Linked DNA regions of Homo sapiens: region 2 is reported to be linked to region 1. The links are microRNA targets in miRTarBase. Many come from high-throughput screens and were not tested one by one. Region 1 holds a microRNA gene; the other region holds the end of a gene's coding sequence.

Region 1 (4,148 bases):
CAGCAGCAGCAGGAGCACGCAGGACTGTCTGGAGCCCCAGGAGCCTGCCAGGCCTGAGCCCATTCACCCCCGTCCTTCCTCAGCCTCCATAGGGATGGGAGAGTCGCGCCCAGCCATAGAGACAGATTAAAGTTCCAGGGGCTTCACGTTAAAGCAGAAGGGAGCAAAATTCAGAGCCTACAGGAGCCCTCGGCCCCACCCCAGGCCCTATCACTGCAGACAGCCGAAGGGCACTCCTGCAGGCAGCCCGGAGCCTTCCCCTTTCCCATCCAATGTTCACCACAGCACAGACTTCAGAACTCCCTGGTGAGAGGCAGCTCCATGCTCCCTCAAGCCAACCTCCACACCCAGCACTTTACAGGCATCGAGTCCTCACACAGCCCTTGCCGAACTCCCGTTCTACAGATGCACAAACTGAGGCTCCAGGACATTGAGACTTGCTGGGAAGCCAAGAGCTGGCATCTGCACCAGTTCTCCCTGCTCCAAAGTCCTTAAGCTCATGGACCATCCACAGCCCAGAGAAAAGGCAGCGGGCCAGCCTTGGATGTAATGCTGGCGCTGCAGGCAGAGGACCCAGGGGGTCTCCTGGGACCCACATCTACACTCAACGGCACCCAGCACCCACATCGACACTTGACAAACTCAGGTCAGTGCATTCAAGTAAAATTTTGTGGTTCCCTGCAAATCAGCCAAAGACAGGTGTCAGAACCGGGGCACTCTTGGGCACCAAGGCCGGGGGGCTTTACCTCATTCTGGGGGTCCTGTGCTCCCTTGAGAACCATCTGAAAGGACCCCTTCCTTCACAAAAGCTATGTTTGCTCACACAGTTTTACAGTTTTGGGGGTGTGCTAGATCTTTCAATACCAATCTAAATTCTCTAATTTAAGAGCCCTGATCTGATCCTGCCCACAAGTGGGGGTTCTGAGACCCAGGGAGGGCCCCAGATTGACCTGGAACCATGGGGCCCTCTCCCAATCCCTATATGGGCAGGGGTCTGAGCCTCCAGATAGGGCGGGGAGGCCGCCTGGGGGCCGGTGGAACGGTGGGCCCAGTCCCCGGGATATGCTAATCACACGTCTCACCGCCCACCTGACATTCTGGTGCCTCTTGACGTAGAGGCTGTGGAAGTTGTTGTCAGGCATGCAGCGACGGTCACCATGCTCCTTGAGCCGTTCGATGATGGCCAGCTTCATGCCCATGGAGATGTGGGCCGGAAGCACTGACAGCAGCAGGTTCTCCTGGGTGTGGGTGGGCAGACCAGCAGAGGGACCAGCAAAGCGACCGGCGGAGGGACCAGCGGGGGACAGGCAGGGTAGCATCAGGTCCCAGACCTGGCCTCCTTGGCCCCCATCCTCCCTGCCTGCCTGCCCTGCCCACAATGTCCCCATCTCTGCTCTTGTCCTCCACCAACCCAACTGAGCATCTACCTCCCATGTACCCAGCAGCCCCCGGGACTCAGGGTGACTGAGAAAGGGCTCTTTCAGCTGGGGAGGCTAAGCTGATGGGTGAGCAGCCTGGAGCCACTACGGCCTTCTCTGCCGCCACCTGGGGACTGCGTGCCCAGGACTGAAACCACACAGAGGAAGGCAGAGTCAAGGGTCAGCAGGCTATGGTTACCCTGCTGGAGCCCAGGACTCACCGAGGTGAGACCTGCATGGGTGTCTGGCCATGCACCTCATGCACATGGCAGCATGAGTGTCTCATGTCCAACAGAAAGAGGAAGAGGACAGGGGTGTACAGGGTGAGGAGTGGGGGCCGGGTCCCACCTGCTGGCGCTTCTCGATGCGCAGCTTCCGGCGGATCTGGATGCACTTCACAGTGTAGGTGAAGAGGTCCCGGGATGCATCCTGCATTTGGTGCTTGTGGAAGGCGCCTGTCAGGTTCCCACACAGGAAGATGACTGCGTTGGCCAGCAGCTGCGGGTAGACAGGGGTTTGGCTCATTATGTGGCCTGGCCCATGCCCTCCCGAGGCACCAGACCCCTAGGCGGACTAGTGATGGCACCTCTTCCCATTCCCTGACCTTCAACCCACTGAGAATGGCACTCTTCCTGGGGCAGACAGGGAAACTGAGGCCCAGACAGGAGCTAGTCTCCTAGTGAGTCACTAGGACTGCAAGACCAGGACACCCAGGGAGGCAGAAGAGACCACCTCACAGAGCCCAGGGCCCGAGGGGCATGCGTGCTAAGGGCAGTCCCAGAGGGCACAGCGCCCAGCTGGCTGTGTGGAGGGCCAGCCTCTGCCTGGAGAGGACACCAGGCCTGGTCAGAGGGAAAACACTTCTCTAAACACCCAATAATTATGAACAGAAGATTCACTCATTCAACACAAAGACACAAGGCAGTGCCCTGGGGTACTCCCCCAAGCCCCGCCAGGACAGGGCCTTCGAGGGGAAACTTCGGCAATGGGACTCACCCCACGACAGTGTCCCTGAACCGGGAGGCAAGGCCTGAGGTCACGACCCTGAGGGCTGAGCCACAGGGGAGCCCTAGGCCAGCAAAGCAAAGGCCAGAGGGCAGGGCCACGCCTGGAGCCCAGCTTCCGAGCAGACGTGGAGAGGGCCCGGCCTTGGAGCGGGCTGTCTGCAAACACGGCTCCGGGGCCTTCGGGTCTGATTCACCCAGAGGGGGCCCCCCCATCTGCCCTTAGACCCAGACCACAAAACCTCCCCCAGAGGCCTTAGCCCATCCCTCACCTGCAGCCCCACCCGGACACTGGGTGTCGTGAAGCCTCCCATCAAAGAACCGAGCACCAGGAGGTGGGAGGCAGTGGAGACGGCCCCAACGGCGACAGCGCCCCGCATGCTGAAGGGCAGTAGTGTGTACACCACGAAGACAATGAACAGGAAGAAGGGCACCTGTGGATGCAGCCTGGTGAGCCCGGTGCCCCAAGATGCTGCCCCAGGCCGTACAGCCCCCGGAACCCTGCACCACAGCAGCCCACCCAGTGCGTATCCTTAGGTTGGCTCCCTCGCCACCCCCTGCGTGGGCAGACATACAAGGGAACAAGAAAAGCCATAATGTGTTTCTAGGGTGGGCCCGGCCACAAGGTTCATGGTTTCCTGTGCTGATCCACTGCCTGTGGCCACCCTAGGTGGGAGGCTCCATGCCCCGCGTGATCCAGGGAGCCCCCACCTGGTGCCCCTGCCACGTGGTTCTCGCTCAGCAGAAATGATTACCGGGAGGCTGAGGCACCCTCTCACCAGCTGCCTCCAGCAATGCGGCCCCACCCGCCCTCCCTCCACCCCCAGAGCTGCCCCACCATCCCCACCGGCTGGTCCTGCGTCCACCCCTCTGGGAGTGCTGCCCTCTCCCTCCCCTTCAGTCCACATGGTTTCCTTGGGCCTCACCCCACCCTGCCCCAGCCACAGGAGCTGTCATAGGACCCAGGCCCACTGGTCAGAGTGTGCTACCGCTTGGTGACAGCCTCTCTGGGACTGGGCCCATGACCACAGCCAGGCCAGTGTGGCTCAAGCCTGCAGGTCGAGCTGGTTGAGAAAGGGCCCTCTCTCTCAACTGGGGTGGGCAGCCTGGAGCCGCTGTGAACTTCTCTGCCCCCACCTGGGGACAGCGTGCCCGGGGCCGAAGCTGTCCAGAGGCCCCAGTTCCAGTTACCCACTGGAGCCCAGCACTGACCCCTTGGCCTTTCCTGACACAGGAACCAGTTTGTGCCTTTTTGCCTCTTTGAGCTGAAGTTCTGTCATCTCCAACCAAACTGGAGCCACCCAAAAGTGCTGCAGCCCAGCGTCCGAGTGGATGCTCTCCCCACCTCAGCCCTGTCAATGCAGAGAACTCACAGGGACAAAACCAGCCTGGGGCCATCCTAGACACACAGCCAAGCGTGGGGCACGAAGGGCCTGTGGCATGCCCACCAACCACGGGGATGGGAGCTGCTGAAGGCGCAGCTGGCAGGGAGTCCAGAGTTCCTGTTACCTGCTCCCACGCACAGGCCGCCTTTGTCCATGCGTCGAACACCAGCACATAGCCCAGCGCCACCAAGCAGGCCCAGGTGAGCAGCGCCAAGGCCCTGAGCCAGCGCCGCAGGAGACACTCGACGTACATCAGCACAGAGAGGGCCGCAAACACCGCCAGCACCAGGAACGCCATGCCCAGAATGGCCTGGTGTCTGGAGGGGTCCTGGGTGGAGCAA
Region 2 (4,000 bases), not on the chromosome of region 1:
AGCACTTTGTCTGCCTCCTTCAGTCCAGGGGAGTTGCTTGTCCTAGCGACCAAGATATGGGGTTTGTGGCCACATTCAGTCATTTTCAGCCTCCACCTTTCCCCACAGAAGGATTTCCATGTCTGAGGGTGGCGTTCCCTGCTTCCCAGGCCTGGGCCCCCTTTGGAGATCAGGTGTGGCCCCCTGTGCACTCTTGACCAACACGCAGTCACCACACCCAGCCCACTCTTGGCACCTCCGGGGCACCCTCTTCTCAGTCTCTCTTGTTGCCAGGTCCTGGCCTATTTCACTTTCTGCCTGTGGATAATTCCGTTTGCGTTTTTTGTGTCACTTTCGGCCGGGGAGAACGTCCTGCCCTCTACCATGCAGCCAGGAGGTGAGAAGGGATTTGTAAGGGGCCCAGGTGGGGGCAAGCCAGCAAGGCCTGGGTTGGCAGGGGTCCACTGAGGGAACCTGAATCTAGCCCTGTGTTGGAGACACCTGGACTCGGGGTTGGGAGGGCCGTGTTCACACACATGCGCACACACACACACACACTCTCTCTCTCTCTCATATTCTTGCCTGTATCTCCACAGATGATGTCGTCTCCAATTATTTCACCAAAGGCAAGCGGGGCAAACGCTTAGGGATCCTGGTTGTCTTCTCCTTCATCAAAGAGGCCATTCTACCCAGTCGTCAGAAGATATACTGACCCCCATGCAGGCAGGATGTGGGGGGCAAGATCAGGAGAGTCAGGCCCCTGGGCCTCTATGCCAGGTGGGGACCAGAAGTCGGGAAGGCACCTACCACCTGCCCTGGCTTTCTTCCCCTCAACTCTGGAGCCCCATCCCCACCCTCCTTGGGGGGCTCAGCTTGGCTCAGATCTGATGCTTCAAGAGGCTGTAACCTCAGAGGGCACCAAGGAGGGTGGCAGAGCCTGCTTAGCCAGGAGGCCGAGGTCCCTCAGTCCTCCCCTGTCCCTTCCAAGGTGGGTCAGGAGGTTCTGGCCCCGCTGGGGCAGGCAGGGCAGGGTCTGTGAAGCTTAAGAGCAGATGGTGACAAGTTCTCTGGGCAGGTGGCCATGGGGAGGGGCCATGGCTTGGCATGTCCAACAGAAATAGTTTTTGCTGTTGAACGGTGATTTCTGTCCAAGTGCAGATTTCCGTTTGAATAAAGCTTCGCTTCTAGGTGGCACTGTTTGCCTTAATACCCTGACAGTTCATCTTCCTTTCTTCCTGCTAACCTTCTGCTCTGGACTGGACTCACTTTTCTGCTCCAGGGACTCCTTTTCTGGGTTTGGGTCTTGCCCTTCCCAAGGGACTGTTCTTGTGGCCCTTAATGGGAAGGGGGCAGGGGTGAGGAGCTGAGCCTGCTCAAGGAGTGGGAAGTGGGGCTATAGGCAGCCTCTCTGATGCACTCTCTTCCATCTCTTTCCCCAAGGCTCCGTGACTGTCAAACTGGGAGTAGGAGAGGGGACAATTTAGGACTGGGCTAGATTTTCAGAAGAACATCTACAATATCCTATTTATAAATCTTCCTCTGGGAAAAGGAGTGGTTTCTGGCTGAATACTATCTTAGGCTCAAGGAGAAACAAAATAAAAATTAGCTTCCAGGCAGCCTGTTTTTAAAGAAATGGGACTAATGGGAGAAGCTGTTTGTCACTCTAAGAGCATCCAAGCCCTGGCCCGTCTGTGCACTCTTGGCTCCTGGGGAGATATATCTGCCTTCTAAGAAGGCAGGCCAGGTCTTGGGCACAGACCTGCATTTGTTGACCTTGCACTCCAACTATAGTGCCTTGCAAGTGCTCAACAGTACATATTGGAATGAAGTCCCTATGAGAGCCATTTCTGGCCATGTTCTATACCTCAAAGTGAGGCTGGCAGGTACAGAGATGAACTGTACACATGTGATACATTTAAGCCACTGGAAAAACCCCTGTGCTTGAAAATATTTCCTCTATATCATGCCTGGAGTTCCATCATAGCCCTTCATTTCCTTGGCTTTAGCATTTACCTTCTCTTAAGAATACCAGCTTTCCCCTTTCCCTGAGAGGAAGAGCACATGTTGGTCTCCTCTTAGTGTGAACGAGATTGCCAGGCCCTTTTCTCCTATGCACACCAGGATAGACAAGGCAGGGGATACTGGCAGCCTGCATCATCCTCCCATTGGGCTGACAGCTGGCCCTACTTTCCTCCCTCTGCTGCTTGGTCCCTCACCTTGATGATGTGGCTTCGCCCCCTCCACTCTACTGCCAGTGTTCTCCCAGGGCTTGCTAAATCCAGCAGACCCCTTTCCTGTCTTACTAGATCTGGGCAGCATTTGACATGGCTGATCACCCCTTGCTTCTTGGATGGCACTTCCCTGGCACCTCTGTGGCTAGTTGTCCTACCTCCCTGGCTGTTCCTTTCAGGCTTCCGTGCAGGCTTCTCCACTTGCCCATGCACAGTAGGGTCTTTCAGGGTTCTGCTGTGGGCTCCCTAGGGAAGCCCATCCATCTGGATGGTTTCAAGGATGGTGAGGAATTTAGAGTTGACCTCCAGCCCCAACATCCTTCCTGATCACCTGAACCACAGTTTTGCTGCCCTCTAGGTGCACAGACAATTCAGGTCCATGGCCCAGATGGTACTTGCTGTCTTCTGCAAACCTGCCCCTTCTGGGTACTTCCCTTGACCCCGAGATCACTCAGGAGCCAGACAGGAAACTTATTCTATTCCTGTTTTCTCTTTCTGCCCACCACATCCAATCTCTCAAAACGGTCAGGTCTACCTTAACATCTCTTGATTTGAGCCACTCCCACTGTCATCAGCTTTCACCTGGATTATCGTGACAGCCTCCTACTGCTTCTCTATCATGTGGCCAGAGCTATCTTCCTAAAATGCATTGCATAGTTGATCAAGTCACTCTCTGGCCTAAAACCTTCCTTGGCTCCCTGCTGCCCTCAGGATAAAGTCTGGACCCCTCAGCATGGCTTGTGAGACTCATGGTGTCCTTGTCCCTGCTCACCTCTCTGGTCTCATCACTTGCCTTCTTGCATTCTGGGTCCCAGCCTCCTGTATCCAGAGATGCAGTGGCTCTCCATTGCCACTCTGATTCCTCCTTTCTTTTGGTCACAGAGAAAGGGTACTTTCTCTGTCAAATCTCAACTTAGACTTGACTTCCTCCAAGGAGCTTTGGCTATACTCTCTCCTCCCGACCCCCACCCTGGCATACTACACAGATCACTCTGGGCTCACTTGCCTGCCTAATGGTCATCTCCCCAGTAGACTGTAAGCTCCTTGAGGGCAAGGATTGTGTTGGAATTTTTGTATTAACAGTGCCTGGCTTGGTGCCTGGCACCTAGAAAGCACTCAATAAATGTTTGTTTAATGAATGAATTGTAGTGATGTGTACAAGGGGATACAGGGAAGCCAGTTAACTTCCTGGAGGAAGTACAAGTGCTTTCATAGACTCGAATGGAAACCACACATCCCTCCCCTCCCTTGATGTACTGCCCATGCCTCCCTGAACTGCAGAAACCTCAGTAGCCGCTGGGAATAAGGATGGCAGCCCAGAGTAGCAGGGAAGCCCATGCCAGGGGGACATATTAGTTGCCCTCCACCCCATTCTGGGTCTCAGCTTAGAGCCTGCAGCAGGAAGGGCTTAATCTGAACAAGAAACAGAATTTCCCAGTGGGTCCTTCCATCCTGGAAGCCTGGGCCCTTAGGGCTGGGAGGGCAGTGGGGGTGCCAAAATGTGACAACTTTTACAATGCCAAGGTGAAGAATAGTGTCTGACCCCCCACTCTCAACCTAACTTGGATTTCCTGGCGGCGGTGGGGGGGTGCCAAGAGATTTATTTGCAGAGAAAAGGGAGGCCTGGGGTCTGGGCTTTTGATTGGGAAGGGTGACTCCTCGAGCTTGGGAGTGGGAAGCCCATAGGCACCCCTCCCCCTTTCCTCGCCACCCACAACGTGAATTGCCACACTTCAGCCTTCACTGGGCTGCCTCAGGGGGAGAGGTAGCCATAATAACTTTATGGGTTG

The links. The annotated mature microRNA hsa-miR-6771-5p reads CUCGGGAGGGCAUGGGCCAGGC and lies in region 1 at 1,950-1,971, opposite strand. An mRNA with a match to its seed (bases 2 to 7 or 8) in the 3' UTR can be bound and repressed. Matches are read on the target gene's strand: a 7mer-m8 pairs with bases 2 to 8, a 7mer-A1 pairs with bases 2 to 7 and ends in A, and an 8mer does both.
Region 2: miRTarBase lists TEX261 as a target of hsa-miR-6771-5p. Seed matches in the 3' UTR shown: 7mer-m8 at 3,166-3,172.

What each region holds. Positions count from the first base shown.
Region 1 is chr16:50,290,444-50,294,591 of GRCh38, reverse strand. MIR6771 (microRNA 6771) reads right to left here and starts at 1,976; the gene lies at 1,917-1,976. ADCY7 (adenylate cyclase 7) reads right to left here. Exons shown (of 26, transcript NM_001114.5): 3 at 3,932-4,135; 4 at 2,695-2,856; 5 at 1,767-1,916; 6 at 1,090-1,238.
Region 2 is chr2:70,985,291-70,989,290 of GRCh38, reverse strand. TEX261 (testis expressed 261) reads left to right here. Exons shown (of 6, transcript NM_144582.3): 5 at 274-376; 6 at 576-3,349. The coding sequence ends at 691. ANKRD53 (ankyrin repeat domain 53) reads right to left here. Exons shown (of 6, transcript NM_001115116.2): 6 at 3,792-4,000. The coding sequence ends at 3,991. Among named protein-coding and RNA genes, the nearest start is that of TEX261, 7.6 kb to the left of the region's middle.